Linked DNA regions of Homo sapiens. The protein of the gene in region 2 purifies or fractionates together with the protein of the main gene of each other region. This does not show direct contact. Each region holds a gene or a part of one and is shown on either strand. Other genes may lie near its edges.

Region 1 (4,175 bases), on a different chromosome or scaffold from region 2:
TCATATTTGTGGCTAAGTTTCAGCAGAAGGGTTTTGTTATTAAGTAATACTTTTTGTCCTGCCACCCATATAAACATCTTTCATATCAGATTTCATTCCAAGGATGTTTCAAGAAACCATTCGGTTCAAACACGTTTGTGACCTCTGTTCTTCAGGCCCCAGACACACAAAGATGAAGGCCAGGTGAATTTAGGTGCATCAATCATTACTTAAAATGTGCCTCTTAATCTCAACCAACCACAGCAGGCAAAAGAGGAAGAAAGACTAAAAGCTCTACCCAAACACTAACAGTAGTTGCTTCTAAGTGACATTTTTCTGCCACATTATACTTCGGTATGCTCCAAATTTTCTACAATAATCTGGTTTGGTTTAAATAGGAACACAAAAGAGTATATCCTTGTAATGGGGACAAAAATAGGAAGATCAATAAGACCTAGTATTTGCTAGCACAACAGGGTGACTATAGTAAAAAAAAAAACAATTTAATTGTAAATTTTCAAATAACTAAAAGAGTACAATTGGATTGTTTGAAACATAAAGGATAAATGCTTTTGGTGACAGCTACCCTATGTACTCTGATGTGATTATGCATTGCATGCCTATGTCAAAATATCTCATGTAACCCATAAATATATACACCTACTAGGTACCCACAAAAATTAAAAATTAAAAAACAAGAATATATCCTTGAAGCTGGGAACTTTTACTTGCTAATAGATGGTACAGAATTTACTGCAATGAGATTCTGCTTGTATACTAATAATTTTTACTTTAAAACAGACTTTAAATACAGAGTTTATATCTCAGATATAATTTAATGCAACATCTGCTTTCTAAAGATGCAAAAATCGAGATGGTAGGATCGCTTGAGCCCAGGAGGCAGAGGTGGAGGTTGCAGTGAGCAGAGATTGCGCCACTGCCCTCCAGCCTGGGCAACAGAGCGAGACCCTGTCTCAAAAAAAAAATGCAAAAATTAAGAGTCACAGTTGAAATGATTTGTTTAAGATCACACAAATAGTAACAGTTTCAGGACTAAAGCCAATGTTCTTGATTTCTAACTCAGAGCTCCTTCCACTATGACACTGTTTGAATTATGCTTCTCTGAAGTCCACCACCAACTGGGGAGCATCTGCGGTGTATGAGGTGCTACTGGAATACAAAGATGGCTAAGAAAGAGCTATTCCCTGGACTCACGGGAGGCAGTTCAAAAAAAAAGAAGGCCGGGCGCGGTAGCTCACACCTGTAATCCCAGCACTTTGGGAGGCCGAGGCAGGCAGATCACCTGAGGTCAGGAATTCGAGACCAGCCTGGCCAACATGGTGAAATCCTGTCTCTACTAAAAACACAAAATTAGCTGGGCGTGGGGGCGCATGCCTGTAATCCCAGCTACTCGGGAGGCTGAGGCAGGAGAATCGATTGAATCCAGGAGGCGGAGGTTGCGGTGAGCCAATATCGCGCCATTGCACTCCAGCCTGGGCAACAGAAGCGAAACTCCGTCTGAAAACAAAACAAAAAAAAAACCAAAACAAAAGAAAGAAAGAAAGAAAAAAGACAAGGCCAGGCACGGTGGCTCACGCCTGTAATCCCAGCACTTTGGGAGGCCGAGGCAGGCAGATCACCTGAGGTCAGGAGTTCAAGACCACCCTGGCCAACATGGTGAAACCCCGTCTCTACTAAAAATACAAAAATCAGCCAGGCGTGGTGGCCTATGCTTGTAATCCCAGCTACTTGGGAGGCTGAGGCAGGAGAATCACTTGAACCCGGTAGGCGGAGGTTGCAGTGAACCGAGATCGAGCCACTGCAGTCGCTCCAGCCTGGGCGACAGAGCGAGACTCCGTTTCAAAAAAAATAAAAAATAAAAGACAAATTGACATGAGTTCTGCTTTCACTATTAAAAAACCTTTAGTACCTACAGGTGAAACTTAGCTTTTGATTTTTCCCCTTCTTGGAAAGAGTCTGCATTTAGTCAGCTAACATTCTAGTACCACTCACAAGCTAAAGATCTTCCGTAATTTGCAAGGGAGGCAGTAGGGGGATGAGAGTTATAAGTTAGCTAACAACCAACTATTCTTTAAAGCTTAACTGTGAACTTAACTGCAATTATGCATTTCATTGACCTTCTCTAGTGTAATACCAGCTCGTCCCTTAGAAAAGAGGAAAATACACTTACGTTTTTATTTCTAGTGGTTCTAAGAACTTGTGATTTGGCTCCAGATTCCTACATGAAAACACTGCATATATTCACCTCCTTCTCTTTTCACCGCATTCGAGTTTTTCTGTCTACTACACAAAATGATAGATAGGGCCAGGTCTGCCAGAACCCTAAATACAGCGGCATCGCCCTGCTTCCTTCCAGGGGATCTTACTATTGGAAGGGCTCTGCTACACAGTACCTCAGACATCCAGAAGAGAGTTTATCTTCCCTCCAACTTCTATATATTCTTGCCATAAGGACAGCACTACCAAAGCGGGCTCCTCCTCTCAGTTGACAGAACGGTGACTGCCTGCGAGGCTCATTCTGAGATAGGGACAAGGGAAAGGGACCGGGGCGATAAGTGAGGGTCCCAGCTTGAGGGCTGGAGTGGGCACCAGACTCCCACCAACGACTAAACCGGGGGAAGTAAAGAAACTGGCCTTCCCCGCACCCAAAAATAAAACATCACATCACTAAAAAATGTAAACGTTCGCAACATTTTCTAAAACAAAGCCACTCACCTGCAAAGGGGCCACCAGCAGCAGCAGCAGCAGCAGCAGCCGCTCCTCCGAGCCGCCAAAGAGCCAGCGCCTCCTAGGACTCATCACTGCCGCCGGCATCGACGCTCTTTTCTAGCCCCTGAACCAGACGTGGGCAGGTCCTAGGGCTCTGCCTATTGGAAAGTCGAACTGTCACTCATCCACGGTCCCGGCCTACTCCCGGAACAGGAGAGGTCTCTTCCGTTTACCAAATCCCAGGAGTAAGAAGTGGGGCTCTGATTGGTTTACTCTAGAGACGAGCACATACCTGAACCAGTAAGGAGTTGGCTTCGACGCCAGCGGGCAGGCTTGGGCCTAGGGAAGTAGAAAAACACACCCTAGAGCGTCGCTGGTGCAAAACCTCGGGTGCGGGGAGCATCTTAGCTGTTTGAGGTTCTAGAAAGCGTTTAACGTCTTAAAAGAAACACCTGCGGGTGAAGACAGGTGTCAGCGGACTCTTGGAAGAGAGGAGGTGATGTTTCTTTTACTTATGGGAAATTTAGGGATTGAAACCTGAAGACGAAGCCGAGGTATCCTCCCAGAAGAAGCTCCTTTCGCACAAATTACTCGTGGTTGAAAGTCTTAAGTCGTGATTAAAACAAATGCCTTTAAAGTGCCCAATTTATAGGCAGTAACGCAACCTTACTTTCTCTTACCGCTTTTATAGGGATTCCCCTAGGCAGTTTGCTGACAGTATTTTAGGTGGGGAAGAAAAGTGATTAATGGAATGCCCTAAAAGCTTATTGCACAGAGGAAGGGAGGCTAGAGTGGAATGAGAGAATGACAAATTTGGAGGCGACAATAACTGAACAAGAGAAATCTATGAAAACACCGGAAACCTGGCACGAGGCCTTAAAAGCTTCTAAGCAGGCTTGAACTACCACACGAGGTTTTGAAGCATATGTGTCAGAACTCTTGGGTGGGCGGGAAAGATAAGGAATGTTATGGGAGATTCCCTTCTTAGAAGCTATCCTAAGTAGTGTTTCGTGTCCTCCTGTGAGTTTTTCCTGTTTCATCCTCCTAACAAATGCATTAGGTTTGTGACACGCAAGCAAGTCCTCAGAATAAATTATACATACAGTTGAAAAGATAATCTTTCCACATTTGAAATTCTGTGACACACTCTTTATTGAACTCATTAAGACCTAATCGTAGCCAGTTCTGTATCTCATTTATCCATGTTAGAGCATGACAGTTCCTCCTGGGATATCAACAGAACTTTACTTCCGGGACGGCACTAATCCGAGGCTTGACAGGTCCCAGCAGGTGATAGGTCTCACCTAGTGATAGTTAGAATTTAACTTGCACAAGATTAACTAGAGTTCAGGCCAGAACAGCTGGAAGGGGCAGCTTCCAAATCTTATACATTTGCCCTCTTGCTTTTTTCTCAATATCAGTTGAGGACAAAGTAAGGAGAAAGCTTTTCTTCTACAGTGTAATAA
Region 2 (4,136 bases):
CCCAAACCAAAAATCACTTCCGCAACACATTTCTTAAAAGCAGAAATTAGGTTCCTTTTATGTTAGTGCAAAGATAGGTGCCAAGCTGGGGTCTCAGATGGAGTGATTTTAAATCTCAGAAAGAGCTTAGCTGTTTTTGTAAAAAGGAAAGTTGGCAAGTGATTAGTGCCGATGTGGCCCAGCTGCTCTTTTGTACTTCGAAAGAAACAATTAAAATGGCTGGGACATTAAACTTTAAAGAGCTGGGTTGTTCATATTCAGAAGCTAATTTTAAAAAGAGCCTGGTACCTGGGAAAGGAAGGGACATTTTCAGAAAGGACATGGTCTTCTACCTTCTGGACTCTAAATTTTGAAGAATCATTTAAAATAGCTCATAGGTAAACATTACAGATAAAATACCTCCAGGGATAAGAAAGCTCTTTCTTGCTTAGACATGTAGACACTAGATGCAAAATTAATTTTTGTTCACTTTTTAGATGATAAATACTGCCATCTGAGAAATTAAATGTTGGAAAAGACAAATCCAGAACTGGTTTCTTTCTACAAATTGCTGAGCTCCTGTGATGTGCTAGGTCCTGGGGTTAAGGAAAAGAAATGAACAAAGCAAATCCCTGCCCTGGAGGAAGCTCACATTTAAGTGGGGATGACAGATCTGTAAGCAAAGACAGTTCACTGTGGTGAGGTGGTGTGGCTAAAAGCATGGTTAAAAGGGTTAAAAGTGAGGGCTCTGTGCTCAATACAGGCTCAGCCCCAGCCCCACCACTTAGGCAGTGTCTGAGCTTTGGTTTCTACATTTATAAATGGGAATAAAAATGGGAATAAAGATACGATTTCTTCAATTAGATCATGAGGACTTACTACGGTAAGCGAAGTTAAGCGTTTAGTACACTGCCAGCTGTAGAGCAATAGAGCAAGTGCTTCGTCAGACCTAGCTACTATAGTAAGTGTGGTCATCCCTTATGAGATCTATGGGAGCACAGAGGAAGGAGTCTGTCACTCCTGCTTAGACGATGTGTGGCTCCTCAGGAGCTGAGTCTTAAAGGAGGGTAGGAGTGGTTGAGGGCATTCCCTTCACAGTGAGCAGAGGGAACACAGGGTGTCCAGGATAGTCATGGGCATGGTTGTCATATGAGAAATGACAGTGTACGGGGCAGCAGAGGTGACCAGGGGCCCCATTATCACGGGCCTCATAAACCATGCCAGGTGTCTGACCTTCTAGAAATATCAGAAAACTGACGGAGCTTAAAGAGGAAAAGGATGTAAATCTGCATTTCTTTTTTGTTGTTGCAGTTGAAAGATAAGCCATTTATTGACCATCCACTTTTCAAATAAAACACAAATGTGAGCATAACATAAACACACCCAAGACTCACTAGCCCCTGCAAGACAGGAAGCATTCTTGGACAGAGAGTCTGCAAATGAGTTTCCTTATACCTAATGTCTGAACTTCTCACTCATTCTAGGGTTTCATGCTTTGTTATCTCTTACAAAGGAAAGGAAACTGGCTAGAAGATTCATGTACAAGAAGGTCACAACTTCAAAGCTATCTGACACTAATGTTGTGTACAATCTAGTTTGCAACTCTGAGAGACAATATCAAATAAGTACTGTCAAATATTCCTCCCAGTTAACCTTTACTGTCATTGTTCTTTGAAATTGTCTTTGGGATTGGTTATGTTCTCTCGCTGTAGCTTTCGTTTATCTCAGAGCACAAACCCTAAAATCCATGTGCAGTCTCCATGTTCAAGTATAGATGTCTGTTTCAGGACAATCCTGGGTCGCGGTAGTGTTTCCCTCTCTGTAGTGTGTGTTTGGTGTCATGCCCTTGGAAAGGCTGGCCAAATGGCAGCGCAATGCAGGAGGGTGCCACGGTCAACTTTCTCTCTGGCGAACTTGCTTCCCTTTCAATCTGGTCACTGCTCATGGTCGAGGTGGAAATCTTGAGCTCAGTGATGAACTTGGCTTATCTTCAATCTGAAACTGCACTCTTATGTAACCGAATCCATTTCTTCACCAAAAATTAAATAGCGCTTTCAAAAGCTGTCAGGCATATTCTTAGGAAGTGTCCTGAGACGGAGCTGGAGGGTCCTGGCCTTCTGGCTCTGGAGGGAGTGCTGGCACAGCTGCTTCTTTCTGGGCCACCAGGAATTCATGAATTATTTGTTCTATTTGTGGCCTGAAGATGTGGTTTAGTTTTGGATCCACCACCTGAGAACTAATCCTGTCCACTCCAGCTTCTGACCTCCCTGACTGAACCACACTCTGCCTCAGACCATCGTGCAGTTGGTTGTCGTTTGCTGGAGGATTCCATTCCTGCTTGTCCAGATGTGTCGACACAAAATTATCCGCTTTCTGGCTCAGGTTTTGGTAAGCTGGCTTGGTGTCCACGTCAGCCTTGCAGTCCCGGCGGAAGCTGTCAAAAAGGCCCCTGCTCTTGAGCTGCCCCACGATGATAGCGATGAGCTGAGGGTCGCCAGGGGGCAACGAGGCCGGGTTGATGGGGCCGCCGCCCCCGCTGGCCCGGGTCGAGGCCGGGCCCGCACCGCCGCTGCCGCCGCCGCCACCGTCCGCCATGGCTGCGCACCGGGCCCACAAGGAAACCGATTATAGCTTCTTCTCCAGGACAGAAAGCCTAGAATGTGTAGAGGTGGCTAAGGGGGCGGTGAAGGAGGAGGGCCCCAAGGAGGCAGCGGCGGAGGTGACGGTGGTGGTGATGGCGGCGGGGCCGGTGGTTGGGGCGGCGGTGGGGGAGGCCAGCTCCAGACCGCGGAGGTTGTGGAAGACGCGGCAGCAACCGCCTGCTGGATTCCAAGCGCGCTCCAGATGGCGTCACCGTTGACCTTTGCATTGTGAGGCGGGAACCGTAATCTGCATTTCTTAAAAGATCTCTAAGAGGGAGGTGGGAAACAAATGCCAGTGGGCAAGGGCGAAACAGGGAGACAATTTCAGCAACCATTTCAGTGCCCTAAGAAGGAGATGGCGAGGAGTGAATGATCTTCGTGGCCTGGCAGGTGAAGAAGGTAACAGGGATACAAGAGATATTTAGGAGATAGACTCATCCCAGGGATTGGAGAACAACGGGGTGAGGGACGAGGGAAAGGAGAGGGTCAAGGATGACCCCCAGGCTTCTCACTTGGGCAGGTGCATGGAGGTGCCATTTACTAAATGGAGAACAGGTATAGAGGTGAGGATGGGAGACAGAGACATGATCGTGCATTCCATTTTTATTTACTAGTTTAAGATGGGTATGGGTTATTCAGATGCAGACATCTGCCTATGAAGTCCAAAGATACAAGGACTAGGGGCTGGGGAGAGACATCTAACTCACTGAAGGTAGAGACTATAGGTGGCAATTACAATGGAGAACTTAGAAGAGATAGAGGAACACCTGGAGAGCCCATGAGGGGGACTGAGAACAACACTAAAAAGATGGAGGGAAAACTACAAAAGCCTTGGATCATAGACCGCAAAAGGTACATTTCATGAAGGCCATGGGTGAAATGCCACACTATGTTCCACAAGGTGTCCATTGGCTTTGGTAGCCATTGATGAGCCTAGGGCAGATGTGTCAGTCAGAAGGAGGTCATTTCAACAAGAGAACTGTATTGCAACCAAGAGCCACAAAAGGCAACCACATCCAGCGCCATCCAATAGAGAAGTGCAGGTGCACAGAAAGAACCTTCTATCAATATTTCAAAAGAAAAGCAGATCCCTGATTTCACCCCAACACTCACTTCCCTGAATTAAAATGCCCCTGAGATGTAGACACCACATTGTTCTATAAGCCGTAACATAGCTTAAAGGTAGTATATTTCACAAAGAAAGTTTACACAACAGACTCTGTCAATAACCTCACCCCATAGCTTCTGACATACAAGTACAGATGCCTCAGATGGACGTATTCTGAATCTCATCCCACAGGAGACAGTGAACCTACCAAGACTTCACCACAGCAACCCCCTACCTATGCTCCTCACCATCCCCATGATCAGCTCGACAATTCAGTTCTGTATTTTTTTAAATTAATCAATATTTATTGAGGGACTAGTCGATGTGGCCCTGTGCTAAGCTTTATGGAGCTCTCCACGTGCCTGGCCCAGTCTAACACTCAATAAATGTTTGCTGTGGCTGTTGTT

What was found.
Region 1: the proteins of BOD1L2 (region 2) and BPGM purify together in Homo sapiens (affinity purification with mass spectrometry; one large-scale study listed by BioGRID and IntAct). This does not show direct contact.

What each region holds. Positions count from the first base shown.
Region 1 is NC_000007.14:134,645,478-134,649,652, reverse strand, and holds the start of BPGM (bisphosphoglycerate mutase), read right to left. Parts: upstream 2,801-4,175; 5' UTR 2,716-2,800; intron 2,519-2,715; exon of another isoform or gene 2,394-2,518; intron 1-2,393. UniProt on the Homo sapiens protein: Plays a major role in regulating hemoglobin oxygen affinity by controlling the levels of its allosteric effector 2,3-bisphosphoglycerate (2,3-BPG). Also exhibits mutase (EC 5.4.2.11) activity.
Region 2 is NC_000018.10:57,145,751-57,149,886, reverse strand, and holds the start of BOD1L2 (biorientation of chromosomes in cell division protein 1-like 2), read right to left. Parts: upstream 2,801-4,136; 5' UTR 2,575-2,800; coding exon 2,056-2,574; 3' UTR 1-2,055. UniProt on the Homo sapiens protein: May play a role in proper chromosome biorientation through the detection or correction of syntelic attachments in mitotic spindles.